Linked DNA regions of Homo sapiens. The protein of the gene in region 4 binds, or shares a complex with, the protein of the main gene of each other region. Each region holds a gene or a part of one and is shown on either strand. Other genes may lie near its edges.

Region 1 (6,316 bases), about 55 Mb from region 4:
CCATCGGGCCTATAGTTCCCCACTCTACAGCAACCAGCAGTACGCTTGTGTCAAAGATCTCTGTAAGTGCCCTTTATGGAACATGAGGGAATGGGCAAGCCTAGAGATGGTTTCATGCCATCTCTAGCTTTGGGAGCCAAATTCTGAAACAGAAACTTTCTGTTTCCCATAATTCTCCCTCAACCTCACATTTTTATATCCATTTGGATGCAGAGGCAATATCCCCATTTTACAGCAGAGGGAGATACGATTTAGTTGCAACTACATACAGTTAGCAAGAGGTAGAGCCAAGACTGGAATCTTCAGTTGCTAGCTTCAGAATCTGTGCTCTTTGTGTGCAAAATCATTTCTAAGCAAGAACAAGGATTCTAGATTGTCCTCATCCTTACTACAGAGTCATATCAGACTCGGGGCAAGACCCAAAGGCTGCAGGCACCCTGGGCAGGTTCATAATTTGGCAACCCAGGCCGGGCGCGGTGGCTCACGTTTGTAATCCCAGCACTTTGGGAGGCCGAGGCGGGTGGATCACGAGGTCAGGAGATCGAGACCACGGTGAAACCCCGTCTCTACTAAAAACACACAAAAATTAGCCGGGCGTGGTGGCAGGCGCCTGTAGTCCCAGCTACTCGGAGAGGCTGAGGCAGGAGAATGGCATGAACCCGGGAGGCGGAGCTTGCAGTGAGCCGAGATTGTGCCACTGTACTCCAGCCTGGGTGACAGAGCGAGACTCCGTCTCAAAAAAAAAAAAAAAAAAAAAAATAATAATAATAATAATAATAATAATTTGGCAACCCTTAAAAACATATTCATTGACAAATTTGCTCAACATTTATTTGGAGGAGAGGCTGAACTCTGTGAAGAGCATGGGTGAAAAAGAAGAACCTATTGGTGGCAGCACCTCAGCTTACACATGCCATTTAGCAGAACAAAAGCCAGCAGTTAAGGGCCCATTCTCCTTAGAAGGAGAATAGTGATTCTGCGCATGTCTCAGCTCCCAAGCAAGCAAAGTTGTGTTTCAAACATCATATAATGCTCTGCCTGGAAGGAGTTCTAATAAATACTTTCCTCCCTCACTTTACATCACCAGTGATGTTTTTAAAGTCCTTTATAGATTGGTGTCCTGGGTATTGCCTAGCTGACCCTTCCCTAATCTTCCCCGCGGCGCCCCCACCGCCACCCAACACACACATGGGTATCCATCTACTCAATCCCACCTCTCCCTTCCTTTCCTCCAAGCCTTTCTCTGCCTTCCCAATAATGTCTTCTTTCTCCTCCCATTCGATTAGCTGCTGCCAATCGCAATGATCCTGTGTTTGAAACCCTGCGCACTGGGGTGATCATGGCAAACAAGGAACGGAAGAAGGGACAGGCAGATAAGAAAAATGTGAGCACTGTACCTCCCCACGAGGTCCCTCCCAGAGATCCCATGGAGCAGGTCATTTTCCCATTTGGAAAGCTGACAGAAGTAATGGATTGTCTTCCCCTAAAATTGCACAAAACTCGGCCAGGCATGGTGGCTCACGCCTGTAATCCCAGCACTTTGGGAGGCCGAGGTGGGCAGATTACCTGAGGTCAGGAGTTCGAAACCTGCCTGGCCAACGTGGTGAAACCCTGTCTCTACTAAAAATACAAAAATAAAAATAAAAAATCCGGGTGTGGTGGTGCTCGCTTGTAATCCCAGCTACTTGGGAGGCTGAGGCAGGAGAATCGCTTGAACCCGGGAGGCAGAGGTTGCAGTAAGCCACTGCACTCCAGCCTGGGGGAGAAAGTGAGACCCTGTCAAGAAAAAAAAAAAAGGAAGGAAGGAAGGAAAGGAAGGAAGGAAGGGAAAAGAAAAGATAAATGTACATATCTGATCAAAAAAATCAACTGCAAAAAACAACTAGAAATCTGGCCTCAAACTTGTTGATATGGAGGTTGGACACAGATAAGGGATTTCTATGGAGTGAATTAATGACTTGTAAGGCACTAGCAATGTGATATGGCTGCTTCCAGAAGGGCTAACATACTCTTGGGTTATATTCTTTTAAGGGAATTATAAAAATTGTGCTGCTCTTTTTTTTTTTTTTTTTTTTTTTGAGATAGAGTTTCGCTCTTGTTGCCCAGGCTGGAGTGCAATGGCACGATCTCGGCTCACCGCAAACTCTGCCTCCCGGGTCCAAGCGATTATCCTGCCTCAGCCTCCCGAGTAGCTGGGATTACAGGCATGTGCCACCATGCCTGGCTAATTTTGTATTTTTAGTAGAGAGGAGATTTCTCCATGTTGGTCAGGCTGGTCTCGAACTCCCGACCTCAGGTGATCCGCCCACCTCGGCCTCCCAAAGTGCTGGGATTACAAGCATAAGCCACCGCGCCTGACCATGCTGCTCACTTTTTACTTACACACTGGAGTATTTTTAAAGGCTGACAGCATAGTCAAGGACCTGGAATCTGGTAGTGAATTCCCTGTTATTTAGCTACATTCAAGCAGAATGTGGGTGACCCACCTGATAGGATGTTTTAGGGAAAGTCCCTGCATGGCCGGGCACAGTGGGTCACGCCTGTAATCCCAGCACTTTGGGAGGCCGAGGCTGGTGGATCACGAGGTCAGGAGATTGAGATCATCCTGGCTAACACGGTGAAACCCCGTCTCTACTAAAAATACAAAAAATTAGCCGGGCGTGGTGGCAGGCGCCTGTAGTCCCAGCTACTCAGGAGGCTGTGGCAGGAGAATGGCGTGAACCTGGAGGCGGAGCTGGCACTGAGCCAAGATTGCGCCACTGCACTCCAGCCTGGGTGACGGAGGGAGACCCGTCTCAAAAAAAAAAAAAAAGTTCCTGCATTAGGCAGATGGCTGAACTAGATATTTCCTCCAAGGCCTCTTCCAACTCTGAGATCTCTGAGATCCCATTATTCTATAGTTCTCTGACCTGATTATAGACAGCCAGGGCATGTGTTCCCAAGACAGCGTCTCCCTAACTCTGGTGCCCCCTCCAGCCTGTAGCAGCCATGATGGAGGAGGAGCCAGAGTCGGCCAGACCAGAGGAAGGCAAACCCCAGGATGGTGAGTGTTACCCACCTCCATCCAGAGATGGAGTAGGATCAGAGGCTCAGCTGTGGAACAGAGGGTGGAGGAGCAAAGGGCAGGCCAGCTTTGGATAGACGAGGCCCTTCCACAAAAGGGTAAGAGAATAAGAATTGCCCTCCAGGAGACAGACAATTTGTTGGTGTTTCCTATCCCAGGAAACCCTGAAGGGGATAAGAAGGCTGAGAAGAAGACACCTGATGACAAGGTAAGAATCCTTCCTCCCTGCAAGGAACCCAGTTCTCTCCCCAACCCAGCTCTGACACCACTACTCATGGCCCTGGCAGAAGCTCACTCTTTAACTCCTAGGCTTCCCATCACTTCTGACCCACACTCTCCATCAACTTGCACACCCACCCACGACCAAAACACTTCTCTCAGTTCAGGGACCTAGAAGAGAGTTGGAGTGTAGAGTGTGTGGTGAATGTCCCTGCCTTGGAATCCTGCCCCTCAGTGTGGGGTAGAGGAGCCCTAAGACTCATCATTCCCTTGCACCCCCAGCACAAGCAGCCTGGCTTCCAGCAGTCTCATTACTTTGTGGCTCTCTATCGGTTCAAAGCCCTGGAGAAGGACGATCTGGATTTCCCGTGAGAGGCCTTGGGGCAGGGGGCTGGTACTGCGGAGTGAAGAGGAAAGAGCTGGGTTCCCCCAAGGGAAAGGAAAAGGGGGGACTCAGGGCTTGGAGCCTATTGATGCTGGACCCGGGGCACAGCAGGGGACCTGCTATGTGAGTGAGGCCCCTCCCTTCCCCTCCCAGGCCAGGAGAGAAGATCACAGTCATTGATGACTCCAATGAAGAATGGTGGCGGGTGAGAGAAATGGCTAGGGCTAGGGTGGAGTGTGGGTTGAGTCCAGAACCCGACATTGAGAGATGGACTCTCCCTACTATCTTCCCTAGGGGAAAATCGGGGAGAAGGTCGGATTTTTCCCTCCAAACTTCATCATTCGGGTCCGGGCTGGAGAACGTGTGCACCGCGTGACGAGATCCTTCGTGGGGAACCGCGAGATAGGGCAGATCACTCTCAAGAAGGACCAGGTAGGCTGTTGCCCCAACCCAATCCCAGGCCTGAATGCTCCCTAGCCCACCACACTCCTTGGAGAGCTTAACCATTAATAAGACTAGGGTGAGCCCCTGTAAACCCCGGCTCCCCTGCTGTCCTCTCCTACCTTTTCCTTTGATTCCTCTCCTACTTCTGATCCTTTAATCTTCTAGATCGTGGTGCAGAAAGGAGACGAAGCGGGCGGCTACGTCAAGGTCTACACCGGCCGCAAGGTGGGGCTGTTTCCCACCGACTTTCTAGAGGAAATTTAGGCGTGCGGGCGCCTGCAAGCGGGAGACACCCACACCCCATTCTGGGCGGGCCCAGTGGAGTTTGGGGAGGGGGGCGAAAGCAACGGGACTGCTGGGAGAGGAGGGGTAGGAAGGCCCGCCTGAGCGCGACGGGGCTTCCGGGAAGGGACTGGTTCTCGCCCCCTTCCCCAGCCTGGGGCCTCGGATACCTGCTGCCCAGAGCAGCCCGGACCCGAAACCTTTCAGGCCCCGCTTGCAAGAGCTGGAAAAAAACGCGTATCTACTAGGAGGAGCCAGGGACTGGGGCGGGGGGCGGGGGCGAGGGAGGGCGAACTGTCGAATGTTGCGAATTTATTAAACTTTTGACAAAACTTAGAAAAGTTGTTATTTAACTGGGGTTGAGGAGAGGGCCTGCGGAGGGGTGGAGAATCCTCCCTAGCTGTCCCGCCTCGTTACCATCGGGTAACCTGAGACCCATCTGGGCTGAGGTTGGCGGGAGGTGGGAAGTGCGCCCGCCAGGTGAGGCCTCTGTAGTCAGTAAAGAAAGGGGAGCGCAGGGCTGGAGTCGCCGCCCCCGCGCCCCAGCGGTTGGGAGCAGGATCTTGTAGTAGGGTAAGTCCCCCCTTGCTCTTGGCGATTTAGCCGCAGGCAGCCCCTTGCATTTCGGAATCTGGCTTGGCGCCGAGCTAGGCCGCCAGGGGGCGATGCAAGATCTCGGTTGGAGAGCGAGGGATGGGGAGGGGGTGGAGGGTGGGTAAGGGGAGACAACCAGAGACACCAAGCCCGAGACCCTGGGCCTGGGAGGGGGTGGGGTGCGTGCCGTCTCCATGGCAACACTTCCTCAAGTCCTCCGAGAACCGAGCTAGCTAGGCCGGGGGCCTAACCCCACCCGCGCGGCCCCTGCCCTAACCCTTTCCGACAGGTACCGAGTGAGAACGGAGGGCAGACAGCTAACCGGCTCTCGCGGAGACACCCCTGCGGAGCACCGTATGCAAATGTTATTATTTGCATATGCAAATATGCAAATACGCCGGCCCTGGTCAGGGCGGCAGGTGGCGAGGAGCAGGAAGGTGTGGGGAAGGGAGCAGAAGGAGACGAGGAGTTTGGGGACCTGAGAGCGGACCCAGTGAGAGGCAGGCTGGGGTGGTCGCTGGAGTGGGGCAGGCGTGTGTGGGGGGGGTCTTGAGCTCGATGCCGGGTGGGGGAGGGTCGGCTTGGCCAGCCAGGAGCTCCTCTTCTCGTCTGCCCGTTGTCTGCCAGGACCGAGGTTGGCACCGCCTAGCAAGGTTGGCAGCGGGAGCCCGGGCACCATCTGCTGCTGGCGGGGGGAGGGCAGAGGCTCAGCTGGGCTGGGGAAGAGGAGGCCTGGGACGGGCGCGCCCCCCTTCCAGAAGGCTGAGGTGTGATGGGGGTAGGGAAGCACACAAGAAGACTCTGCAGAACCGGGTTCAGTTTTCTGTTCCCTTTGCCCTTGACGGTCCCGGATGCCTGAGGGGGTGGGGGCGGAGTCATTAAAGAAGACCCCCCCCTTTAATCGCGATTGAGCTGGAATAGGAACAGATCACAGGCAAACACACACACCAACCACACGCAAATCAAGCATTCTGTCCTTATCCTTCCTTGAAATCCACCTACCAGGAATGTATGAGGGGAGGGACCGCGAGGGCTCGGGTCGTCTCTATTCATCAAGGTCTGAGGGACTCAAAATCAGAGCCCCCCGAGATCCTCGAGAGACCCCCGCCAATGCTAAGGCAAAACCAATTTACTGGCTCATTGGGCGGCAATGCTGGTGTGCGGATGCCGAGAAGCAGGGAGAGCGGCTGTTCTCCCCCAACACTCGGGGGGCGCCCCCCTCCCTAGCCTCACTGAGCCGGCAGCTGTCCCTAATTAGAGCGGCGGTTTAATTGGATTTATCAGCAGTTAATAGGAAATTAAGCAAAGGGCCCGAGAGAAGGGGGGCG
Region 2 (8,086 bases), about 46 Mb from region 4:
AGCATGCTCTGTAGGTCACACACTAGAGCCATAAGGCAAGAGTAGCCGGGGAGACAGGTCCTCTGTGCCCTGTCTCTCCCCATCTAACCCTAACCTAACAAGCGGCAGCTATGAGTCAGGGAACAAAGTCTGGAGCCCGGTTCTCCAAAGATGTATGAGGGACAAGAACAGAAATGACAGGATGCAGGGCAAAAGAATGAGAAAGGCAAGGAGGCCCCCCTAAGTTCTCTGCTACACATGCCCTCCTTCCCCAAACCCCCATCCAGGTTGGCTCCCATCTGCCACTTGGCTTCACCATGCTCCTGGTCCCTGGTCCTGTCACATGTTAAGAAGCTTCCTGGCAGGGTGAGGAGAGCCCTTCCCTCCAAGAGCTTCAGCTGTGAGCTCTCTCTGGCCCGAGCGTGGCCAGCCTGCTGCTCCAGTCTTGGATGTGGCTGCCACACCCCAGCAAACAGATGGGTGTGCCACCCTGGGGGGGCTTTGATTGTCTCATTTCTAATGTATGGCAGTGAGGTGACTGGAGGCCCTGGATGCCAAAGCAGTCCCTTGACTGTCAGGACTTGTGCCTGCTCAGGGACCTTGTTTCTTCCTCATGCCATGGTGCCCACACCCCACCCTTTTGTCACTTTAATGGGGCATCCCTTCCCTGAGTCTGGTGGGAAGGACCCTGCTAAGGGGATCCTGGCCTGAGGGCACTGCCCAGTGGGGCAGCTTCCTGTGTGGGAGGAGAGGAAGGTGCCAGGGGTGCAGAACACACAGCTAGTACCTGGAATGGGAGCCTAGTAGGGGTCACTGCCCAGGAGGTGAGGGGGTCCCCTGTTTCTCCCAGAACCTTGGGACCACAGGCAGCCCTGAAGCTGGGGCTGGGCAGGGGGTTTTGGGGGCTGAGCCTAGTGCCAGCCTGATGCCAGTCTAACGCCACCCTGCCTGGAGTGGGCCCCCCAGCCAGCTGCGCCTGTGCCTGCCAGGGTAGGGCAGCAGGAGGCTGTCAGTAGCTATCCTTGGGCCAAGGCCGGTTGCGCTGCCAGTTCCGGTCACTGTGGTTGTGCTCTGAGTCCTGGGCTAGAAGCCGGTCTTGGGGGTCATGCCCGTTAGCACTAGGCAGCCCCGAGGTGTGTTGGCGGTGAGGCTGGTACAGGTCCTGGTAGGCATCTGCATAGTCCTCCTCCAGGTGGCGGGAGCTACGCTGTGAAGATCCTGTCCAGGCTTGGCGGGAGCTCTCGCTGGCCTCATCAGAGGGCATCAAGCTGTCCCGCTCAAGGGGGGAGTGCTCCTCGCCACGCTCCCCCAGCAGCTGCTGGTTCTGGGGGCCATACAACAGCTCTCAGTGAGGCAGTACAGACCTCACCTTGTCTTCTGGTGAGGTGCGAGATTCTTCCCCCCTCAACTCTCAATTCCCCGGTAAAGGAAATAGTGCAAGGAAAAAGCATGCTGGAGCATTTTTCCTCTTCCGAGAGAGAAAACTGGAGCTTCGACTCCCGCAAAATTCAGGCTCTGCCTTCAAGGCAGCCTGGGAGAAGGTTTGGAGATTGTGTTTCTCTTGACCCCTAGGAAACTAATCTCTGACGTATCCATCTCATTGATTGATTCCCTCTCTCCTCAGGAAGTTCCTTTGCCCGTCTGTGCTAGCTCTGTACAGCAGAGCTGAGAGTTCTACAATCCTTTGGCATGCTGAACTGGAGGCCAAGGACAGTCCTCTGGGCAGGGAGGGGCAGTGCCTTGGCTGGCTTAGCTTGAGCATCTCTGCCCACTGGAAATGGTTACCTGAAGTCCGGGGATGGCACTGGGAGGACCCAGAAGTCCGGGGCCAGGGGCTGGGTGGTGCGTGGCCCGCCAGTAAACCTCCAGGTACTCAGCCAGGTGCTCACAGGCATCCTCCAGCTGGTTCTCATCCAGAATCACATCAAATGACTCCTGGGGAGGGGGAGGAAGGCGCAACGTTGGTTTCCCCTCAGTAGCAGCCCCCCACCCATCTCTATCACTGCCGCAGCCCTGGGGGAGTGGGCACAGGAGCAGCTGACCCAGGCACTCACCGGTGGGCACTGAACCAGCTTATCATATGCCATCATCTGTACGGTCAGGTGCTTCATCTGTGACTTCCCCCGGGAGCGAATGAGACGCTGGAGTACCTGAGCGGGGAGGGCAGAGCTAGGCCTGGAGTCTCTCAGGACTCTGGGCAGAGCTGAGCCCGGGCAGAGCTAGGCATTTCTTCCACTTGTGGCATCAGTAGCAGGTGAGGATGACTCAGAGTTGTGTTAAGGGCAGCAGGAAAAGGGAACTCAGGTGCCCCAGGCAGGGACCAAGTAGAATCATGCCACATTCTAGTAGGATAGCCCTGTGGGCCTCCTCCATGAGCCCAGCTGACTTACCTTTGGTGAGGACACTTTGACAAAGACGATGATGGGGGCCAGCGAGGTCTTGGCCAGCTGTGCTGGGTGGTTGATGGTGTCAGCGTCCAACACTACTAGCTGCAGGGATTTGGCCAGCTCAAATATGCGCTCGATCTCACTCTGCACTTCCGCTATGGAGGGAGGCAGCAGCAGTGCTCACCAGGAGCTCTGCCCACTGCTCACTCCAGCAGGCTTTGAGGGCTCCCGAATGGTGGACAGGAAGGAATTGGAGGAAAAGGGCATTCATCGAAGCCTGGACAGGCAGAGGAATGGGAATTGAGGAGGAGGGGTGTGTTCTTGCCAATCCTGGGGGCAGGTAGAGGAGTTGGGCAGAAAGACAAGGAGGTAAGGAAGAGAAAAGGGAAGAGGGGCCAGGCATGGTGGCTCATGCCTGTAATCCCAGCATTTTGAGAGGCCAAGGTGGGCCGATCACTTGAGGTCAGGAGTTCGAGACCAGCCTGGCCAACATGGTGAAACCCCACGTCTACTAAAAATGCAAAAATTAGCTGGGCGTGGTGATGGGCGCCTGTAGTCCCGGCTACTCAGGAGGCTGAGATGGGAAGATCGCTTGAACCCAGGAGGTGGAGGTTGCAGTGAGCCGAGATCTCACCACTGCACTCCAGCCTAGGTGACAGAGCGAGACTCCATCTCAAAAAAAAGAAAAGGGAGGAGGAAGGTTCTCACTGGCACTTGAGTGGGCACAGAAGCAGGTGGTGGGGACTTCTCACCAATGCTGGAGCGGGCAGAGGAGCGCTCAATGATGGTCCTCTTGCCCGGATTGTTGAGCACAGATCGCTTTGCCAGGGAGAGGTCGGCTGTGACTCGGGTGATGGAGATCCTGGGGTGGGAGTGGAGAATCACAGCTTGCTTCTAAACCTGTGCCTCAGCCTCTCCTTACTCAGCTCCCACTAACTCTTCCCTTAGAGAAGACTAGCTACAGGCATCTGGAAGTAGGCCATGAGCTTCTCCTTGGTTCTCAGGCCACCTCAGGCCAGGGCAGCTTACCTGCCATCAAATCTGTGTTTGAGGAAGTCGAAGAGAGCCTTCTGCATCATGTCTGTGACCTGGGGGAAGGCATGGCACTGATGAAGGGCCCCTTTGGAGAGAAGCAGCCTCCCCATGCATGGCCCCAGAGTCAATGCGCTCCACATACACACCCTGGACGGAGGAGACACACCCCTTCCACTTTCCCTAGGGACTTCCTGTGGCAGGCTTGGTAGAGGTGACTCTTTGGGGTCAAGGACCTCCTCTCACCTCATAACCTTTCAGAGAGGGTCCCACCAGCACCACAGGCCGCATGGAGGGCACCACGTCATATGGGGGAACATGTTCCGCCTGCAGAATGGACATGAGGTCAGTAGAAACCATGGCCCTGGTGCCTGTCTCATGCCTGGTTGGCGTCAGGGCAGATCCAGAGGTTCTGGGCTCCCTCCCCTCTCTGTTCTGCCCTCCAACAATGACTGCCTAGAACACTGTCCCCAGAGCCATAAGCCATGATCCCCCCAGCCCAGGTCCCTTCCTTGACTCACCTGCTTTTGCTTCTGCTTGGCTTTTTGGAAAAGGAAATACAAGATTAAAGTTGGTGAAGGGGGAAAGGTCCCTGGGGGCATGGTATCCCCGTCCCCAGGGGAGATACTGGCTTCTCCCCACCCCTTCCAATCCCTCCACAAACCCTTCCCACACAGTTCACTTGGGCAGGATCCCCTCTTTCCCTGTGTCTTAGCTACCCACCTACCCAAAATGGGTGGGTTGGGGGGAGGCTACCTAGAGATGGCGGAGGGGAGCGTCGGTTGCCAATGTCACTCAGGCTGGAAGGGTTCCCAGATCTCCTGAGAAGAAAGGGAGGTGAAAGAGAGAGAGAGAAGAATGTGTCTCTGTGTATGTATGTTCTATGCATTATTTAATAATTGTACACAATTCCATATGCTTTATCTAGTGAGACAGGTGTACATGCAATATGTGTGTGTGTTTGTAGATTTGTTTAGTGTTGAGTGTGTAGAGCTGGGCATACGTGTATGTGTATTTCAGGGGGATATGCATGTGTATGGCATGCATGGTGACGTGTCCTGTGGGTACAGTGCAAGTGTTTGGGGTGTGTTTACTGACTCATGGCCCAACTCTCACCTGGCCTTCTGCTCCTGTTTGAGCCGGATGCTCTCCAGGCGCTGGGGGCTGGGGATGAAGGCGATGTCCCCGCCCTCTTTCACTAGCCGCCCGATCCACCAGTCATTGCTGTACTTCTGGGGGCAGGTGGAGCAGGAAGGGGTGGTGAGAGAAGCGCCCCGCCCCAGTCCTGGCTCTTCAATGTGAAGGAGCCAGCGAGGCAGTCACTGAGCTGGTCTGAGGAATGCAATGCAAGGGGCGGTGGGCAGAAGGGGCCAGGGGAAAGGACAGCCAAGTTCGGGCCACCCAGGATTTCTGAGTGAGGCATTGCAGCTGTCACAGGGGACCTCGGAGGCAGCTAATCTAACTGCTCACTTGACAGACATGGAGACTGATGCCCAAGCCAGGTCTCAGAAGGATGGAGACCCTGGGGATGAGATCTTAGATATGAGGGGTGGACAGGTGTGTGTTAAGGAGAAGAGCTGATTAGCTTGGGGAATTAGACTGAGGATTCAAGTCAGAAGCATTAGGATCTGGAGCAAGAGCAAGAAAATGAAGTTAGAGGCTTCTGGAAGTAGGGGGGTCGATCACCTCTTTAATGTGCAGAAAATCTTTGGCCTCAAAGTTGACTCCAGAGCCCTGGACTGGGCACTCCTCATCCAGTACGCCACAGTAGCTGACATTGGTCCTCACCGCAAATGCCACAGGTTTGTGCTGGAGAATTTGCCCATTAGTGCAAGTGAGAGAAGGCTCGAAGCACCCCTTCCAGCTTCAGTGCCCCAACAGCAGAAGGCCGTGGCCTCTGCCCATCACACACACCCTCTCACACTCAAGGACATCCTGCCCAAGGACCCCTTGGGACTTAGGACCGAGTGCAGGTTTCCACCTAGCTTGGCCTCCTGTCTTGCCCCATGCCCAGAAAGTATACCTTGGCCCTTTCGAGCTGCTGCTGAGCCTGGCTCTCTACTTCACGCCGGGCACTCTCCCGGTCCTCCTCCAGGGAGACGTCTGAGTCCAGAGATGGGCGGCTGGTGTAGGAGTCGGCTGAACCCTGGGTTGGGAAAGAGGCTGTGACTCCCAGGCTCCGGCATGAAGGATGCCATGGAGGCACCCTCCTCACCTTACAGTGTTGCCTCTATTGCCCCCAGTTTCTCCATCTCCAAGGGGATAGCTGGGTCCCTATGGCCCCTCCTATCCCCTGAGAAGGGCCCCAGTGCCTCTGAGGCTACAGGAAAGCTGGCCCAATCCATAGGTGCAAAGATCTGGGCCCCTCCTCCCCCAAGCCTATTAATACTGCAGCTTTGAATAGAGCCTTCACTTCTCTCTTTCCTCCCTTTTCTCCCCTCTAACATGTCCTCTGAGCCGAGGGAAGGGAGGTGTGCTGAAGATGATGTATTAGAGATGATTCTGGATCCAGGAGACCCAGCCCTCTTGTTCATAGCAGCCTGCAAAGCAGCCTGGACATCATCCCTTTAAGATGCCTGTCAGGAGTCCAGCCAGCCGCAACAGTCAAGAGATGCTGGTTGGCACAGCACCAGTCCTGAATGTGGGGATCCAGCCATCTGCCCCCTAAGATTCCACTTTCCCTACTCCAACAAGGCTCTGAAGGCTCCCAAATGGTGAGCCCTTACCCTTCCAGGGTGAAGAGGAGGACACAAAGCTGCCAGCTCCTAGAAGTTACCTCCCCTTTGCTCTCCCCACCCCCTACTTTTCTTCCTTCCACACCTGCTGGGGCAACTAGCCAGGTGTGGGCAGCAAACAAGACACAGACCAAGAACACAAAGCTGTCTCCCTGGGTGCAGGTGAGGCTGGGCCACACCTACCACTTGGCCTACATCTCCCTAGTCCTTTCCCAGGCCCAGGGGACATCAGCCCTAGAAGAAGGCTATGCTAGTGCCAGGCAACCTAGCTACGGAGCAGGACCCCGGGGATGTGGGGAGGGGGTAACATGAGCAAGGAGAGTCTCTGAGTCCTGCCCATAGGAAAGGTCTTGGGCAATGAGGGTGCATTTGACGGTCACAGAGTTCAGCCTCAAGACCATGAGGGAGAGGCACAAATGAGTAAGGGACGCTGGACTTTGAGACAAGAGCCCAGAGGTTACAATGTCTGGGTTTCCTCCTCTGTCAGGGAAAGGGAGTCTTTCGTTTCCTGCCTCAGTTTTCCCTCTCTGTGGGGAGAAGCCTCAAGTGATACTTCCCACAATTCTGAGATGCCAGTGGCAGAGAGAAGGGATAAGCCTAGATAAGGGGTTCATGCAGGAGTGTGTGTGTGTATAGGGGAAGGGGCTTTAGAATGTCCTCAGGTAGAGGAACATTCTCTCAAGCTCACTGGGCATGACCACCTACGGAAGGCAGCAGAGGCCAGACTCTCAGAGAAGAAGGCAAAATCACATACCTGCTGTCAACCATGCCCTCTACCCCTACCCTGCCGTGGGCAAGAGGGCTGTTCAGCTAGGGGTCAGCCCAGGCTCTCGAGCCTTAGGCTAAAGACAGTGTCTATAGTAGACCAAAGGCCTGAAGATAGCACAAGGGGGAAAGATCTTTCATTTTACAGAAGAGTAGTCCGCCGACTGTTCCTCATCTCTCCTGAGAACAAAATGAGGCTGGATGGCAGCAGGATAAGTGGGGGATGAACCCCAGAAATAATCTTTGCACAGGGTGAGGGACCTCCTTCCCAGGGGTCTTAGGACACAAGAGAAACCTCTGTGGGATGTTGGTGTCTGAAGCAACCAGACAGGGGCCAACAGACTGGGAGGCAGGAGGCAAGGCAGATGACCACTCGCTTTGGTACAGATACATTGGGTACCTCCCAGAGGCCCAGAACTGTGCTAAAAGAGGAGTCTGACCTTTTCTGCCTGTGCTCCAGGCTCTCAGCCCAATTTAGTAATCTTTATTTTTATTATTTTATTTATTTACTTAGAGACAGGTCTTGCTCTGTCACCCAGGCTGGAGTGTAGTGGCACAATCGTAGCTCACTGCAGGCTTGAACTCCTGGGCTCAAGCGATCCTCCTGTCTCCTGAGTAGCTACGACTACAGGCATGCGCTACCATGCCTACTAGTTTTTTGTAGAGACAGGATCTTGCTATGTTGCCTAGGCTGGTCTCAAACTCCTGGGCTTAAGCCATCTTCCTACCTTAGCCTCCCAAAGCATTGGGATTATAGGCATGAGTCTCTATGCCTGGTTTAATTTAGTAATTTTTTTTTTTTTTTTGAGATGGAGTTTCACTGTGATGCCCAGGCTGGAATGTAATGGTGCGATGTCGGCTCACTGCAACCTCTGCCTCCCGGGTTCAAGCAATTCTACTGCCCCAGCCTCCTGAGTAGTTGGGACTACAGGCATGTGCCACCATGCTGGGCTAATTTTTATATTTTTAGTAGACACAGGGTTTCACCATATTGGCCAGGCTGGTCTCCAACTCCTGACCTCAAGTGATCTACCTCGGCCACCCAAAGTGCTGGGATTACAGGTGTGAGGCACCGCTGGCGGCCTAATTTAGTAATCATAACGCCTGAGGCATCTGGCTTACCTGACCTCTCACCCTGGGATGGGAATCACAGGATCTCTTCCTAAATATTTAATGAGTTGTGCTCAG
Region 3 (8,013 bases), on a different chromosome or scaffold from region 4:
CCAAAAGTGCTGGGAATACAGGAGTGAGCCACCACACCCAGCCAGTATTTTTTAAACAATATAATGTGGCAACTCTGGAAATCAGTTGTTCCCCCTTCTTGAAGATTTGTTCCCGTTGTTTGTTTAGTGACTTTTTTGAACTAAGATGGTAAAGTATGTGTTTTTTGTCATGTGTGATCACTGAGATCCCTGTTCAATTAGCTTAGTGACCAATTATAAATTTCCTAAAACGCTTGGCAACAATGCCTCTCCCAGTCTTTACTGAGGGGCTCTGTGCATATGACTTTCATGCTCAGCTAAGCCACCCACATCTCTGCCTTAGCCTTCACTTCCTGCTTGAACAGAGTCTCAAGATAAGGCAGAGAGTGCTTAGGGCCTTCTCAGGTCTTTCCTGAGCATGCATATAGCATTGTGCATGCATGTGGCCTCCTAGATTCCCAGGAATATGTTGGAGCTTTTCAAAGCAACTTATGGACATTTCAGTCTCCAGTTTTTTGGTTAGCCTGTTGTTTTCCCTAACTGTTATCTACTGCCTCAGACAGCCATGATGTTAATCAATCATCTCTAATTATTTTCAACAAACATCCCCAGGGAGAAAGACTATTTGCACTGGATGAGCTCAGAGTCAGGTCAAACAGAAACAGCTTCTCAAGTGGGGGTTTTCAGGGAATCACCAGACAGGTCAAATAATGACAACTCTCTGGGAATGGGCCTTTGATCCAACCCCATTCTCTCCCCTCCAGAGGCTACTGGGATGCTGATTTTCACTGTGATTACGGAATGTTGGTTTGCAAGGTTACCACAGAGCTGGGAAAGGGAAACAGGAATAAGGCAAGTTAAAACACCACAGAACTCACTGGTCCTCCTGAGATTCACCCATTTTTCTTGCTGGATTGCTGCAAGACTTTGGTTAATTTCCAGAGTTCTGAAAATGTTGATTCTGACCATTTCTGCCAGCCTTCTCATTACTATTATGGAGAAGATTATTTTTGGAGGTTCTTTTTCTATCATTTTTTTTCCTGATGTCTTTCAAAGTTAATATATGTAAAGCGTTTACAACAATATTTGGCACACAGGGCTACATGTATGTGCCATTATTATTATTGTTGTTAATAATAGATGACGGGCCACATATGAACCCACTTCCTCCCTCCAGAGAAGAGTGGTCCCAGGGAGCACAAGAAGGGCAGATGGGGAAGGAGAAAGATGTCCATTTGCAGAGAAAAGAGAGGGAAAAAGGCAGGAACATATTTTGGAAGATTACTGGGGGAAAGGTAGTGCTCAGTGTCACAAGTGTGGGAGGTGTGGTTCATAGCTGGTTAGGCTAAGAAGGCAAAGAGGTAGATCCTGTCAGGCTCAAGGCCAAGCAATGCCTGTTGGCCCCCTGCAATTGGTCCAGTCACCTCTCACCAGCCTGTCTCTTCCTTGTGTGGATTCTGCTCACTGCCCAGTCTTCTGCTCTGACTTTAAAAGGCAGATGGTTCCAAGGACGGGTGAACAGGACTGTAACAGCACGTCCCCATGTGTGGTCCCTGAAGAAGCTGCCTTGCCCTGCCCTGCCCTGCCCTGCCCTGCCCAGGGGAGTTGGCTGGAGGCTGTTCCTGTTTATGGGTGTGCTCAGCAGTGGCCAAGGGGCATGGGCATCCGGGCTATGCGATACCCTGCAAGCACATGGCCACACCTGTCACTCTCAGCCCTGGGACTTGGTGTTTCTACAACAGCTGGGCACTTATGAGTCTTCTGGGCCTCCAGTGGGGCTGAACAAGGGAGGGGATCTCTGGAGCAAGCAGGAGGGAAGGAAGAGGGAGCAGAGACAAGGGAGGATGGGGTCTGTGCTCTTTGCCTCACAAGCAGACTGCAAGATCTTTGGGGACTTAGCCCTAGTGTCCTTGAAGGACAGGTTTCAAGGAACACCTAGTCTGATAAAAGAGGAAATAATCCTGAAAACCAGGTGGGACATCACACTGACATCACTCTGCTCCACTGCCACTGTGGATGGGCGTCTGTAAGCCGAGGAAGGGATCTCACGTTGCTGAGAGTCAGTCCCATATTTTATAGAGGAAGAAGCAGAGGCTGAGATGAGCTTTGTCCTCCCTGGATGGTCATTTGAGGGTAGTGGGCAATGGCGATTAGATCCCTGGCTGCCTGGTCTCCATGAGCACTCTTTCCTCTAAAGTGCTGTATTTGCTAAGAATCCAGAAGCCTCTGCATTTGCAGAATAGAGGCTAGTCACGCGACTACCAGGTACTCCTGAAAAGGACCTTACCTTCAACGTGTGGTTCGGTCACACGGTAGGAAATCGAGGAATACGCTTAAATTACAGGGTGAGGAAATGCTTTGTAACTCTGACAGGGTCTGAGCTAAGACAGGATGCATAGAGGACTGAAGTCCTGACAAAAGGACAGGTGGAGGTCGGGCATGGTGGCTCACGTCTGTAATCCCAGCACTCTGGGAGGCCAAGGCAGGTGGATCACCTGAGGTCAGGAGTTCGAGACCAGCCTGACCAACATGGTGAAACCCCGTCTCTACTGAAAGTACAAAAATTAGATGGGTGTGGTGGTGCATGCCTGTAATCCCAGCTACTGGGGAAGCTGAGGCAGGAGAATCGCTTGAGTCCAGGAGGCAGAAGTTGCAGGGAGCCAAGATCATGCCACTGCACTCCAGCCTGAGCGACAAAGTTGTCTCAAAAAAAAAAAAAAAAAAAAAAAGAAGGTGGGGGCAGGTGGCTCACCTACAGCCTACAGCCATGTCCTGCTTCACAGACATTCAACCTGTGCAGCTGCTCCAGGCCCAGAGCCCACAAGGGCCCATGTGTGGTTTCATGTGCTGCTGTCACTGCCTTGAAATCCTTGGTAATTTGGAGCAAGGAACCCTGCATTTTCATTCTGCACAGGACCCTGCAAATTCCATCGCCTATGCTCTCTCCTCTCCTGCCTTGAGGCCAGGAACAAACCTGCCAGCCCCATGGGTCCCCCTAGCCTGAGGACACAGAGCCACCTAGCTTTTCTTTGCAGGGAGAGAGTGAGCAGGTGGGGCCCAGAAGTCCCTGGGCTGGTAGAGCTGCAGTTCCTTTCTTGAGCCTGCCCAGCTCTCTGCTCTGGGCAAAAAGCCCCAAGGTCCAGCCAGACAGAAATAGCTGGGACAAACGCCCTCGTCTTACAACCCAGCCCCAGCCACCAGCACCACACATGCAATTCATATCTTCTTCCCTGGGCAGAAAAGGCTGGGCGGCTGCCCTATTTCTAGGCAGAGAAACCTGCCTTCCTTCGCAAGGGCAACTTTGCCAGGGGGATGACGGGGAAGAGCAGGAGGTGGGGATCGGGACGGAGGGTGGGTACGTTACCCCCGGGCAGGGTGATGGGCCCGCAGGTCTTGCTGTCGTCCATGGGGATGCGCTTGGTACAAATCCGCCAGAGGCCGAAGTGGGCCGCCTCGCAGGTAGTGTTGTGGTGCTCCATGTGGGGGCTCAGCACAGCCCAGTGGTCGGTTACCACGGCTGTCATGGCCAGCACGATGCCTGCCAGGATGCAGAAGAGGGTCACGCGGACCTTCAGCATTTTGGTCTGGGACATGGTGGTCGCCGAGGCGTGGGTGCCCTGGGCAGGGTCCGGCGGCTGCGTCTCCTAGGGCAGGTGACAAGCCGAGCTTGGGGGGTGGCAGTGGTTGTCGAGCTGGGAGTGGCCACTAAGTTTAGTGTGCCTGGCTGAGCCAGAGTGGGCTGGCCTTGGGGCCGAGGGACGCGGGACGTGCTGAGCAGCTGCCCAGACGCGTCAGGGGCCTGAGGGAGGCTGCTATTAATGCCCATCTCCAGGCGTGGCACCGAGGACAGCTTCTGCTCGGGTTTCAGGGTTTTCTGCCCCTCTGGGAGCCAGAAATACCCCAGTGCGGCGGGGCAGGGTGGCAAGGAGAGAAGGCTCTGGATGGTAGATTGAGGCCTCTGTGAGTAGCAGCTCAGGGTGCCTGAGTTGGGAGAGGGCGAGAGGTGGGCAGCAGGGCCCCGGGGGTGGGGATCTGCCTGCTCTGGGCTGATGGGAAAGGGCAGCCCAGGCCAGGGGAGGAGACCAGGAGCTGCGGGCTGCACGGCTGTCCCGGGCTCCCACGGGGTAAGCCTGTTACCGGCAGGGCAGTGAGTAGGTTCTCATCCTGGGATCTGAGGGGCTAGGATTCTGTCTAATGACATCCCGGGAACCCAGTCCAGGGCCTGTGGAGTCCACCTCTTAGGCAAGCGTTTTAGCCACAAACCCCACGGCATCCCCCAAACCATAGGAAGGTTTTAGGTGGTTCCCAGGTCTGGCCTTACCCAACTCTGATCCCTCCACGAGAACATTACTTCCTTTTCAATTCTCTTTCCATCCCCAAAACTGGGTCCAGAGCAAAGCTCTGTTCGAGGTCAGTGTCATTATTGCCTGTAAAGTGTCCTTTGAAACAAAGCGAGAACGGCCCGAAGAGGACGAGGAATCCTGCTGGACTTGGTCATTCTGTTTTTCAGGGCACTGTTTGGTTTTGCCTTCTATTAACAGCAGGTGATAACGACTTTCCAGTTATGTTTGAATTTGAAAAATAAGTGTGTGAGTAAAAAAGAATGAATAGGTTGATTTATAGGGGATCATTAGGAGCTCATGGGCGTGCAGAGAACACAGAAAGCCCGGGATCGACCACCCTCCGACGGTCCTGTGCACCCGCCTGGCCCCCAGGCTGGTCTCCGAGGCTCCAGCCTCTACATCTCTCCTGGGTTGTGTCATCTCTTCCTTCTCGGCTCACAGGGTGGCCCTTTTTGGGTGTAGCCGAGAGGCTGACGCATGACCAGGAATAGCCTCCTGAGCTGGGTGGGGCCTTGAGCTTCAAAATCCTGGCCTCAGATTGACACGATTTACAGAGACTCTGCCCATGTGGACAGAAATGTTTCGGCCTCCAGCCTTAGAATCACAGAAAGTTCATGATGATGATAATCAGAACAGTGGCTCATCTTCAGTGAGTGCTTACTATCTACCAGGTACCCTGCTAAGCCTTCATCCATTGTCACAGTTACTCTTCACACCAATCCACAAGGGGACTACAACGGTTACTGCCATTTCACAGACAAGGACATGGAAGCTCAGAGACATGAAGTCACTTGTCCAAGGTCACACAGCGAGAAAATGAGGAATCCAGGTTTCAGGACCCAGAGCCCAAAGTCATAACGAATGGTTGGAACTGGGAAGAAACTTCATGATCTATTGTGACAGATTAGGAATCTGCAGCCCAGAGAGGAGATGTGAGGAGCCAGGACTACCTGGTGAACAGCCCCAGGGCTGAGCTGAACCCTCGCATCTCCAGCCACTGGCTTGTGCTTATTGCAGTTCCATCCAAACTTCCATATTTTTAAAATCAGTCTCTCATACATATTACAATCTCCTGAGAGCTTATCTCCCCACTGTTCTCATCTCTGCTTCCCTTCCTCCCTGTCCCCCCACCTCTGTGTTCCCTGTGGGTGCTAATCCATCACAACTGACTGATCACTGACTGACTGTTGACATATGCCACCGCCCCTGCTTCAGCTCGTGGAGAAACTGCCTGTCACCAGGTGGGTAGACCATCTCCATGGGGAATTCCCAGAAGCTGGGACATGGCTGCAGCCTCTGAGCCCTCTCTTGTTGTTTGTGGGGGCCCAGCTTCAGGATCCTGGCACCTGGGGATCTCAGGAGGTGCTGTACAGCTTGATTAGACCTACTGAGTGCCAGGCACCCAGCAAAGCAGTAGCTGGGGAGCCAGAAGAGGGTTCCAGTGTTTTAAGACAGAAAATCTAGAAAGAAGCTATTTAATTTTAGCATTACAAGTAAATACAGTGTCATTGGAAAAATGAAAGTGTCTTTTGAATTTCCTGGTGTGGTGGGGGTGGATGCCCTAAGCTCTTCGGTGCCAAGAGCCTCTGACGGCCTTGGAAAGCACCCTGAAAGGGCCCAGCCCAGAGGGTGCACCCAGCGCCAGCCATGATGACATTGCAGGCCCTTCAAAGATGCCAGGCCTTGGTGAGGACAGCAACCAGGAACTTCTGCTGCTCTTTCCCTCCATGGGGGGCAGGTTTGTGCCCCATGCAGGGGTCCAGAGTCCTCCGCCCCAGTGCAGTGAAAGCATTAAAGATTGATGGCCTCTGCCTTTTGAAGTCATCTTTGTGTAAGTCGCACCAGGAGACCCGCAGCTGCAGCTACTGCGGGCAGGTCCACTTTCTCTTCCCTGTTTACTGAAAGCTCCCTCAAATACACCTTTTCTGCTCACAGAGGTGCTGCCGCGCTGCCTGCCTGGTTCCCCAGGGGCCTGGAAGGGCCAGGAAGGGACTTCAGTAGCCACAGGCATTTGCTGAAAGTTGGGCAGGGCAACATCCATGTCCTCCCCCAAGATCTCACCCTTTCCAGGGCAACAGGGAGAGGAGCATCTCAGGGAGGCAGCATGCGAGAGGGGGACCAAGCTAGAGGGTGATGGAGCTGGCCAGCCCCGAGCAAATCCCTGCACTGCTTGGCTCCAGCTGTGCACGTTCCAGTAAGTCATTAGCCTTTCTAAGCTGCCTCTTGTAAAATGAAGGCAACGGGCCTGGCTGCGGAGCAGGTGGAAGGGCTGGAGGGAGTGCGTTGGACCAGCTTAGCCATAGTAGGCGCTATGGGCTGAATCATGTTTCCCCCAAGTTCATATGTTGAAGCCTAACCCCCAGTGTGATGGTGTGTAGAGGTGGGATCTTTGGGAGATAATGAAATGAGCTCATGGAAGTGGGGCCCTTGTGATGGGAGCAGTGTCTGTATTAGTCTGTTCTCACACTGCTAATAAAGACATGCCCAAGACTGGTAATTTATAAAGGAAAGAGGTTGAATGGACTCACAGTTCCACATGGCTGGGGAGGCCTCACAATCATGGCGGAAGGTGAAGAAGGAGCAAAGGCACGTCTTACATGGCGTTAGGCAAGAGAGCACGTGCAGGGAACTGCCCTTTATAAAACCATCAGATCTTGTGAGATTTATTCACTATCGTGAGAATAGCAGAGGAAAGACTCACCCTCATGATTCAATTACCTCCTACTGGGTCCTTCCCATGACACAGAATTATTACAATTCAAGGTGAGATTTGGATGGGGACACAGAGCCCAACTGTAGCAGTGTTCTCATAAGAGGAGACCAGAGAGTGGCCGTCATGCATTTAATAGAGTACTGAGTACTTGATTCAGCGAAGGACGTAATGGTAAGAAATCAATCGCCCTGGATGCCTGGTACTCACAGTGTTGTGGGAAATTTGGGGGGCTCTTTCCTGTTCTGTTCTCCAGATGTTGATGCTTACTTGTACCCCTGAGATGTTTTTATCCTATCTGCACCAGTCCAACTCCCTTTGTTTCGCAACCCCCCTCTGCTAGCCTCCACTTCTGGCAGCTTTTTCTGGCTGCCCTGCCACGGTGGCCATTTCCCTCCCCATTGATCCAGGACCCTCCTGAGGACTCCAGAACATACAGGCCAGCCAGGGCTTGGGCCATAGTTAAGTTGGGGCACAATAAGGCCCACGCTGGGATTTCTGTCCTGCCAAGCAGAAGACCCACTCCCTCCCCTTGAGGAGTCCACAAACTGTTAGGGCAGCTGAGATCATACTGGGAGGGGCTGTGGGGTCTCCTGGGACAGAACTCAGCCTACGTGGAGAGGTGTGGAGAATAGGAGCTCCAGGCAGGACATGGGCCCCTCGGGAGACTTGAGCCCGCAGCTGGGGTTCTCAAAGTGCGCCCTGTACACCCCTGCAGGAGGAGAGCAGGCAGCCCGTGATTTAAAGACTTTTATGTTTCTTTTTTTGAGATGCAGTCTCCCTCTGTCACCCAGGCTGGAGTGCAGTGGTGTGATCGCAGCTCACTGCAATCTCCGCCTCCAGGGTTCAAGCAATTCTCCTGCCTCAGCTTCTCAAGTAGCTGGAATTATAGGCATGTGCTATCATGCCCAGCTAATTTCTGTATTTTTAGTAGAGACAGGGTGTCACCATGTTGGCCAGGCTGGTCTCAAATTCCTGACC
Region 4 (8,086 bases):
CTCTGGAGTCCAGCTCCCACTTGGCCACTCTGATACATCACTTTGGGTGCAATCTGGACAGCCCAGGAGAGAGGGAGAGGGCAGGGGGCAAGCCTAGGAGACAGGGCAAGAGAGAGACAGGGAGGGAGCAGGAGAGCATGGCAGTGTGCTCCCTGACACCGGCCCTTTCTCCCTAGTGGTCTGGCTGAAGGCAGAGCAGGAGGGACACTCACCAGTGCTGCCTGCTAAGGGGTACCTGCATGAACCAGGCATGGCAGGGGCCAGCGGCCTGGAAGGGGCAGCGGTTGGGAGCACAATGGTAGATCAGGATCTTTGCCATTCGTGGTTCGGGAGAACAAGAAGCAGGAAGGAACCAGAGATTGACCAGAACAGAGACAACAGGCCACGTGATCTTCGGAGGAGTCTCTGGGAACTTCTGCTGCACCTGGCACTAAAGGATCCAGGAGCTGACTGTGGAGGCAGGGAAGGGAGGAAATGGGAAGGCAGGAAGAGCTGGGAAGCACAAGCTAACTTAGCCTTTGGGGGCAGAGTGATGTGTGGGGCCACCAGCTTTAAGAGCATGCTGCCCTTTGGACCTCCTGGATGAGGACCTGGAAACCAGGGATAGTGCACAAATGGGCATGCTTGGGGCTGGCTTCAGAGGCCGGAGTGGTGGCTGGTGTACGTGGTGGGGCAGTCAGGGCAGCCTCAGGGTATGGACCAGAGGTCTCAACACGAAAGTAAAGAGACACATGTAACCAACAGAAATGACGGGGAGCGGGCCGTACACTCAAAAATCTCAAGAATCCTGAGGCCTCAGCAGAGGGTGGGAAGAGCTTTTCAGCTGGAAAGCGTAAGCATCCCCCAGTCCTCAGAGCCACTGGGTAGCTACGTGAGAGGCATTTCTAGGATGGCCGACCTGGTGACAAAATCCTCATTAGCCCTTTTTTTTTAAAATTAACATTCTTCTCTTTGATTTCATTAGAGCAACAAAGAAAAGAAAAGCCAAGAGTATAGATTAATAGAATTTGAGATTTTTGTTGAAGATGCAAGAGGTGTATCTGCCGTACAGGCCTGGCTGCAGCTGGGTGCCTGTGTGAAAAGACCCTCATGCTAGATCTGCCCTGTTGTGTGTGCAGGGAGGCCCATCCTGGAGGCTGGCCCCATGGGAGGGCTCTTCTCAGGGCTCTAAGGAATTTGTTTTATTACTGTCTTTCATTTTAAACCTTAAAGATTTACACAAGAGTACAGTCTCACATACTAAACCTCATATATATAACCAGCTTCAACAACTTTGGACATTTTGCTAATCTTGTTCCATTTATCTTCTCTGTCCCCATTTTTTTTTTGTTGGAATATTTTAAAAGCAAAGCAACTCGTAAACATTTAGACTCTGGCCATAAACACTGCAGCAGTTTAAAAACAGAACTACAAAATATTATACCAACAAGATTAACAAAACTACTTTCAATCATTTAGTTCCCAGTCCATATTCAATTTCCCCCATTTCCCTCTAAAACGTCATTTTAAAGTGTATTTGTTGCTTCAGGATCAAGGCAAGATCCTCCCATTGCATTTGTTCAATAATTCTAGTACGTCGTTGAAATTCCCTAACGGTTTCACCCTAGAAGGGGTTTTAAGAACTTCAAAGCCTTAATGCCGGGCATATGAAAACGCCCTTCCTGTTCTTTCTATCCAAGCTCCAGGAAACCACATCCTATTCCCTTGCAGGAGGAGGGGAGTGAGGATGGTGTGACCACAGGGAGTCTGGTTCCCAAGGATGCCTGTGAGTGTTCTAAGCAGAGAACCAGCGGAGGGAAAGCAAAAAGGGAAACCGAGCTTTGCTCATAAATGTAGGAGGTTCTCAGCCACCTAACTTGGTGAACAACCCAAATATAGCCTAACCTACAGGAACAAGGAAATGTCAGTAAAATCAACAGTCCCTTGATAGCATGTTATTGACTTCAAGCTTGAAACTGGCGATAATATCTGCAATCCTAGGTCAGAGGAAGGCAAGCCCAGGCCTTGCACAGGGTATGGGATTTCAGGGAGCAGGGAAGTGAAGCCTGGAGGGAGGACCTCTGATCTCTGACATTAAAGCTCTTGAGAAGCAGACTGCCTGCCAATTTAGGTATCAGATAGAAGCATAAAAAGATGGAGTCAGTAAGCGCGCCTTTTATAATGAGACCTGAAATCATTGCCTAAAGCAACAAGTGGGACATCTGTGGTGGCAGCTGTCCCTGCACTCGGCACTGCCTCCTGAGTAGGGGCAAGGCAGACTTGGGATTGACTATTAATATTAAGTGAGCATAATGTTGCAACATATGCCATACTAATACATTATATAAATTAATGATGATTTTACAACATGTAATGTAACAAAAATTTAAATGTACACTGAATCCAACTTGGAAAGGACACAAAAGCACTGCTCAAATGTGATCTCATTATGAGGAAACCAGAAACAAACCTGCCTCCCAGATGCTGACTGATGATGCTTAAATATAGAGATAGAAGACACTCAGCAGTGGAAGGTACTTACAGAGGGACACTGGAACCATGGTCCCTAATATATGGCCACTCCCACGTGGCTTTAGAATTTAGATCTCTGCCCCCAATCTCCCAATCCCAGGTTAGGCAGTGGGACTGGTACCTGTAGTTTCTGGGTTGGGGTAGGGGCTCTTATCCTCATTTTCATTGGGCTGGAGGTCATCCATGTTGATCTAGACAGTCACAGGGGAGAAGGGGGAAGAATAGTTAGATACGTCCCCAAGTTAAGAGGCTTGCAGTAGCCTTGAAGTTGCATTTTAGTCAGTGACTTAGCTCAAAAATAGGTACTTGTCACTTTGCATATCTCCTTCAAGACATCAGCAGATGGCTGGGATCCAGCCAATCTGCCTTATCTTCCCCCTCCCAGCTCTCCTGTTCATCCCCACTGGCTTTCTTTCCACTGGGTGTCTTTCTTTCTCTCCTCTTCTCCACAGGGTTCTGGCCTGGGAAGGCTGTGGCCCTCCCTCCCCAGCACCGGCCTCACAGCTCCAGGAAGGAGACAGCTCCTCACCTTGGTGGCGGGTGGAGACTCTCCGTCAGCCGTGATGGATTTCAGCTCAATCTTCTCCTCCTTGGATTCCCCCACTGCCGGCTTCTCCACCAACTCTTGTTTCTTCTCTGGGCTGGCAGTCCTGGCCAGTCAGCAGCAGAAAAAAATAAATGGCTGTTTACTGGAGTGATAGGGAACAGTGTAGGAGGGAACCGCCCTGTGGCCTGTTGGGGCCAGAGGGGACAGATCCCCTGGGTCTGAGTCCATCTTCCTTTCTCCAGGACGCTTCTCGTGTGCAGCTCAGTCACAAGTGCTATGGGGCTGAGCTACACCTGCTCTGCCTGACACGCAATTGGCCTCTTGCAGCTCCAGAGATGCCTGGGTCGCCAAAGCAGAAAAGGATGGTGGATCTCATCTAGGATTGGCTCCTGGAGGAGCTCTGCTCAGTGCCCGGCAGCTGTGTGGCCTGGAACTGTCCCGTCTAGATAATGATAGGATACAACATAGGGCCCCGTCTTGCCTTCCTAACACTGGAGATGAATTATAAAGTAGTGAGGAGGACTCCCTCTGTAAGCTGGAGCTGCGTTTCCCAACTGAGTGGTTACCTTTCTCTCTCCCCACCCTACACTCCTGCCACCTATCACAGCTTCTCAAAAGATAATCCCAGCAGGTGGAGAATATGACACCATTGCAGAGATTATTATAATTCATGATGGTCCCTACCAGAGTGATGCTTAGGAATTAGGAGAGAGGCCCAACTTAGGAAGCCCCAAACCCAGAGTCCTCCTAGGAGGGAGAGCCAACAGAGGCTAGCAGTCAAGCCTCTCTCTGCCACCAGTGGGAAGACATTCCACAATGGGAGCCCTGGAGCCCCAGGCCTGGGCAAGCTTAGAGGGTTACCTGGCCAGCTTCTTTCTCTCCTTCTCCTCTTCCTCCTCCTTTTGGGCAGATGTGAGGCTCTCAGCATCAGCCAGGTTGTCCACAGCAATGGCCAAGAACACATTCAGTAGGATATCTGTTTGTGTCCATTCTTAAAGAAAATGACCCTTGGTTTGGGGTTTTGGTGGGCACAGGGGCACGGGGGATGTGGGGCGTGCAGGGTAGAGCTCCTCAGCAGAGAGAGCTTGAGGGGGAAGCAATTTGAGGGAGTCAGACCCCAACAGTGTTCCTCCCCTCCCCTTCCTCCCCATCACCCTCCTAGCTACCTGGAGCTATCAAGAGGGATGAGAACAGGCTAGCCTGCACACTGGAGCAGGCGGGAGGGAGGCAGCAAGCCCTGCCTTGCACTTTAATTGCTGGGTTTCATGATTGCTTTCCCTGCTGAGATGACTGGCTGTAATTGACATTATAAACAGCATTGTCTCTAGCAGGATGCAGAACGCTCTTAAGAGCGGTTTATTATAACTGGGCGCTGAGGGGGTGGCTTGGTATCTCTGCCAACTCTTAATGTGAGCCTGCACCCACGAAGACCCTTGGAGGGTCCATCTGGAGCCAGCCAAGGCTTGGGAGTTCCCAGTGGAGACAGTTCTTTGCCCTTTCTCCTCCCCACTCCACCAACAGAAACACTGTGGGTCAGAGAACTGCAGAATCAACGAAAGCATAGCTGGAAGGGGGCTTTAAGTCTGTGAAGTCTGACCCCCGGCCCCAGGCACCCAGACATTCATATCATTTCACACACAGGGAAGCCGCAGCAACCCAGGCTGGGGAAGAGGGGCTTTGTCCAGGGTGGCTTCTGAATGTGGCAGAGGCCTTGCATGCATGATCCCATGAAAACTCCCAACGACCCTTTATGTAGTAGGTTCTATGATTCCATTGCCACATTTTACAGACACTGAGGTAGAGGACCTTCAATCTGCAAGAGGTCATCCAGCTGGGAAAAGAGGAAACCTTGTCTGCAGGCTTCCATGACTGTGTTTTCTGCACTGCCTTAGCTGGGACTTGGCCCAGAGCTGTTCCTATGTTACCCCTGGCTCTGGACGTGACTCTCTCGGGGTTATGAGCTGGGGAAGAGAAGCAGCACCCGTGGCTTGTGCCCTGGAAACCTGCCCCAGCCGGGATCAGGAAGGAGCTTTTGGGGCTGTTTGAAGTCTGTGCAGCTCTGCCCGTGACTAAAGTCCTGGAGAGCAGCATCAGAGAGAGGGCTGCTGACCAAAAAGCAGGAGGAGAGCTGAAGGTCACTTGAAGGACAACGGCTCATCCTCCCTCCCGGAGCGTCCCGCCTCTGAGCAGACGCCGCGGCCCCAGGGCAGCCGGCCCGCTCCCGCGCGTCCCTATCGCAGGCGGTGTGAGTGGCCGCACACGCCGCAACGCCAGGGGGCGCCGCTCACCCAGATTACGGCGACAGCCCGCCCGGAGCGCGGCGCCGCTGCGGGCCCGGAGGGTTCAGGAAGGTGAACCTCACCCATGCCAAAGCTGCAGGTTTCCACCCAGACCCACCTCCGCCGCCATGGGGTTCTAGGCTGGGTGGTGTGAGCCCGAGCAGGACCGCCCGGACCTGAGGGGCGTGCCCGTTTGGCACTGTGCTGCAGGCTGGGGGCTGGGGGCCGCAGGGGTGGGGGGCAGCAGCAAAGGATACAGTTTCCACAGATGAAGAGGATGATGAAGTAAATACAGACTAACATCCCTGGAAAAGAGGGGCCGCCATAAGCCATGATCCCATCATACATCACCGAATTCCAGTCCTCCCCGGTCAGGATCTGAATGACACATTCCCACCAATAAGGGACACAGCGTTAGACCAACAGCAAACCCAAAACCACCCTGCCCTGCCCCACTACGTCAACAAAATTGTCCAAAATTTCCCTTTCACTTCTTTCCCTCCTCCTGGCCCCCAATTCTCCTCCCCAGGGGCTCTGAGCTATTGAACTGTCCTTAGACAAAATGCCTGGCTATTGGCATAATATTATTTGAAGGGTGACTAAAAGGGCTTTTTGGCCCAAAGATCTCTGACTTTCCCCACACATGCTTGAGCTGACCGTCAGCCATTCCTGGGGGTAAGGCGTCAGGACCCTTTTGCAGTTGTGTGTTTGCTGAGACAGCCACAGGCTACACCAGCTTTCCCCAAACATTCGTCACTGGGGCATCATCTTCAAGACTTTGACAACATCTACATGTGATTCATTTTTACCTCTCAATCGATCTGCTTTTAAACTTAAATAGATGCCACTTTGAGTTTGCCCTAAGCCAAAATATCTATGAAATCACAAATTTGATGGGCTAGTAATATTTTTTTCAAGAGACAAGCATGGTAGGAAAGCCAGGGTTTCGTCACCCTCCCCTCCCCCAGTAAGAGCAGTCTGCTTTTCTTTATGTTTTGGGCTTTCATGGAGAATTTAAGTAAAGGATTCCATGGATAAGAACGATTTTTTTTTTTTTTATTTGAGACGGAGTCTTGCTCCGTCACCTAGGCTAGAGTGTGCAGTGGTGCAATCTTGGCTCACTGCAACCTCTGCCTCCTGGGTTCAAGAGATTCTCCTGAGAAGGCATTTTTAAACCACTTATATTGTTTCCCCTAATGGTCCACCCACTAGTGGAATTCCATGGCAGATGGGGACAGGGAAACTACAGAAAAAACTCAAGACTCTCCCGGGCATGGGCTCTCCAGGGCTGATCTAGGATGGCTGTGGCTGCCCGGTAAAAGGGTGCAGCTTCCCACACTCCTCCCACCACCCCGCCACTCAACCACCCCGAGTCCGAATCCCAGCAGAGAAGAGTCCATACCTGAAACACAGTGAGGAGGGACTGGGGGAAGTTATCGAATGTGCTCCTCCGGGTCTGCATCTCATCAAAGTTGAACTTTCCTCCAAAGAGCTGCATCCCCAGGAGGGAGAAGATGATGATGAAGAGGAAGAGGAGAAGGAGCAGGGAGGCGATGGAGCGCACAGAGTTCAGCAAGGATGCCACCAGGTTGCTCAAGGAGTTCCAGTACCTGAGAGCCAACAGGAGGGAGGTCAGCACTCTGCCCCTTGCTGTCCTCCCCATCGTGCCTCATTCTCACAACTGCCCACTGCAGGTTCTCAGAGGAGCTGCCACTCTATGCTCTTTTTCCCTGCCCGTGGGGGATGCGTGTTGGTGGTGGTGTGAGTTGCCACCCTGGAGGGAGTTAATTCAAGGTCTCAAGATGATTAATCTGTTGGGGAAGAGAGGGGGACAGTGGTCAGAAGCCCGCGACCTAGCTCTGCCGGCTACCTGCTGCATGTGCCTCTGGGCAAGACATTTCACTTCCCTGCCTTCTGCATCCCCATCAAAAAAATGGAGATTGTTGTAGCCCTTGCTTCATTAGGCTATGGCAGGATTGCGTGACATGATCCACCTTTCCCCAAAGAGCCCCCTGTAGAGTGCCTGGCACATAGTTGATAAAGGTTGGTAATCATTGTTGTCACTGTTGGTCTCTAAACAGAAAGAAAGCTTTTTTTCCCCCACCATGAATGCCAGTCTGAGCTCAGCCTATAGGCAGCAGCCTTCTAGCAGAGGCAGGAATTAGGTCACCCACGGGTAAGAGAGAGTTCATGGCTTGGTGGTTTCCCAAGTTTACGCTGTCCTAAGAATTGTTTCTTTAAGGGCCTTTCCTCTTGAGATTGTGATTCATTAGCTGTAGTTTGGGGCCCAGATATCTTTGTTTCTAACAAGCATCCTACAGGATTCTGATCAGCAGGTGAGTCTGGGAAATCCTAGATTATAGCAAACCTGTCACACCCACTGGGGCAGCTCAAAGCACGAGTCCTCTGAGTGGGCAGGAGCTCGGTCCTGAGGGGACATGGGCTTTCAGTGGGATTCCTGGGGAGGAGGTCCCCACTCCTTACAGTCCTGGGGCCTCTCTCCACTATAAATACAGCGATCCTGGGAAAATCCCTTTCTCATGACAAAGTGGGAGGGGGAACCTACTAATGACTGCTGGATGCAGGGTGGGCACCTGTGTGAGGGTCAGCTCAGGACCAGGAAGTGCACCATGGCAAAAGGACATGGCCCTGAGGGAGCAAGAGCAAGAACAGAACAATCTCATTTCCCTCTGGCCCCCTCTGGCCCACCTGCCTCCTAGGTCACTCCCTTGAGAGATTCCCAGCTCAT

What was found.
Region 1: CACNA1C (region 4) and STAC3 share a complex: the UniProt entries of both Homo sapiens proteins name them as parts of the calcium channel complex.
Region 2: CACNA1C (region 4) and CACNB3 share a complex: the UniProt entries of both Homo sapiens proteins name them as parts of the calcium channel complex.
Region 3: CACNA1C (region 4) and CACNG1 share a complex: the UniProt entries of both Homo sapiens proteins name them as parts of the calcium channel complex.

The regions. Positions count from the first base shown.
Region 1 is NC_000012.12:57,241,872-57,248,187, reverse strand, and holds the end of STAC3 (SH3 and cysteine-rich domain-containing protein 3), read left to right. Parts: coding exon 1-62; intron 63-1,286; coding exon 1,287-1,384; intron 1,385-2,976; coding exon 2,977-3,043; intron 3,044-3,222; coding exon 3,223-3,272; intron 3,273-3,565; coding exon 3,566-3,651; intron 3,652-3,821; coding exon 3,822-3,873; intron 3,874-3,962; coding exon 3,963-4,100; intron 4,101-4,277; coding exon 4,278-4,376; 3' UTR 4,377-4,730; downstream 4,731-6,316. UniProt on the Homo sapiens protein: Required for normal excitation-contraction coupling in skeletal muscle and for normal muscle contraction in response to membrane depolarization. Required for normal Ca(2+) release from the sarcplasmic reticulum, which ultimately leads to muscle contraction.
Region 2 is NC_000012.12:48,820,802-48,828,887, reverse strand, and holds part of CACNB3 (voltage-dependent L-type calcium channel subunit beta-3), read right to left. Parts: intron 5,545-8,086; coding exon 5,422-5,544; intron 5,208-5,421; coding exon 5,085-5,207; intron 4,631-5,084; coding exon 4,515-4,630; intron 4,220-4,514; coding exon 4,155-4,219; intron 3,940-4,154; coding exon 3,920-3,939; intron 3,726-3,919; coding exon 3,645-3,725; intron 3,455-3,644; coding exon 3,396-3,454; intron 3,229-3,395; coding exon 3,119-3,228; intron 2,644-3,118; coding exon of another isoform or gene 2,570-2,643; exon of another isoform or gene 2,522-2,569; coding exon 2,370-2,521; intron 2,130-2,369; coding exon 2,034-2,129; intron 1,915-2,033; coding exon 1,765-1,914; intron 1,304-1,764; coding exon 989-1,303; 3' UTR 1-988. UniProt on the Homo sapiens protein: Regulatory subunit of the voltage-gated calcium channel that gives rise to L-type calcium currents. Increases CACNA1B peak calcium current and shifts the voltage dependencies of channel activation and inactivation.
Region 3 is NC_000017.11:67,040,220-67,048,232, reverse strand, and holds the start of CACNG1 (voltage-dependent calcium channel gamma-1 subunit), read right to left. Parts: upstream 3,680-8,013; 5' UTR 3,573-3,679; coding exon 3,344-3,572; intron 1-3,343. UniProt on the Homo sapiens protein: Regulatory subunit of the voltage-gated calcium channel that gives rise to L-type calcium currents in skeletal muscle. Regulates channel inactivation kinetics.
Region 4 is NC_000012.12:2,580,451-2,588,536, reverse strand, and holds part of CACNA1C (voltage-dependent L-type calcium channel subunit alpha-1C), read right to left. Parts: intron 6,948-8,086; coding exon 6,740-6,947; intron 5,716-6,739; coding exon 5,595-5,715; intron 4,035-5,594; coding exon 3,920-4,034; intron 3,162-3,919; coding exon 3,041-3,161; intron 2,703-3,040; coding exon 2,633-2,702; intron 1-2,632. UniProt on the Homo sapiens protein: Pore-forming, alpha-1C subunit of the voltage-gated calcium channel that gives rise to L-type calcium currents. Mediates influx of calcium ions into the cytoplasm, and thereby triggers calcium release from the sarcoplasm.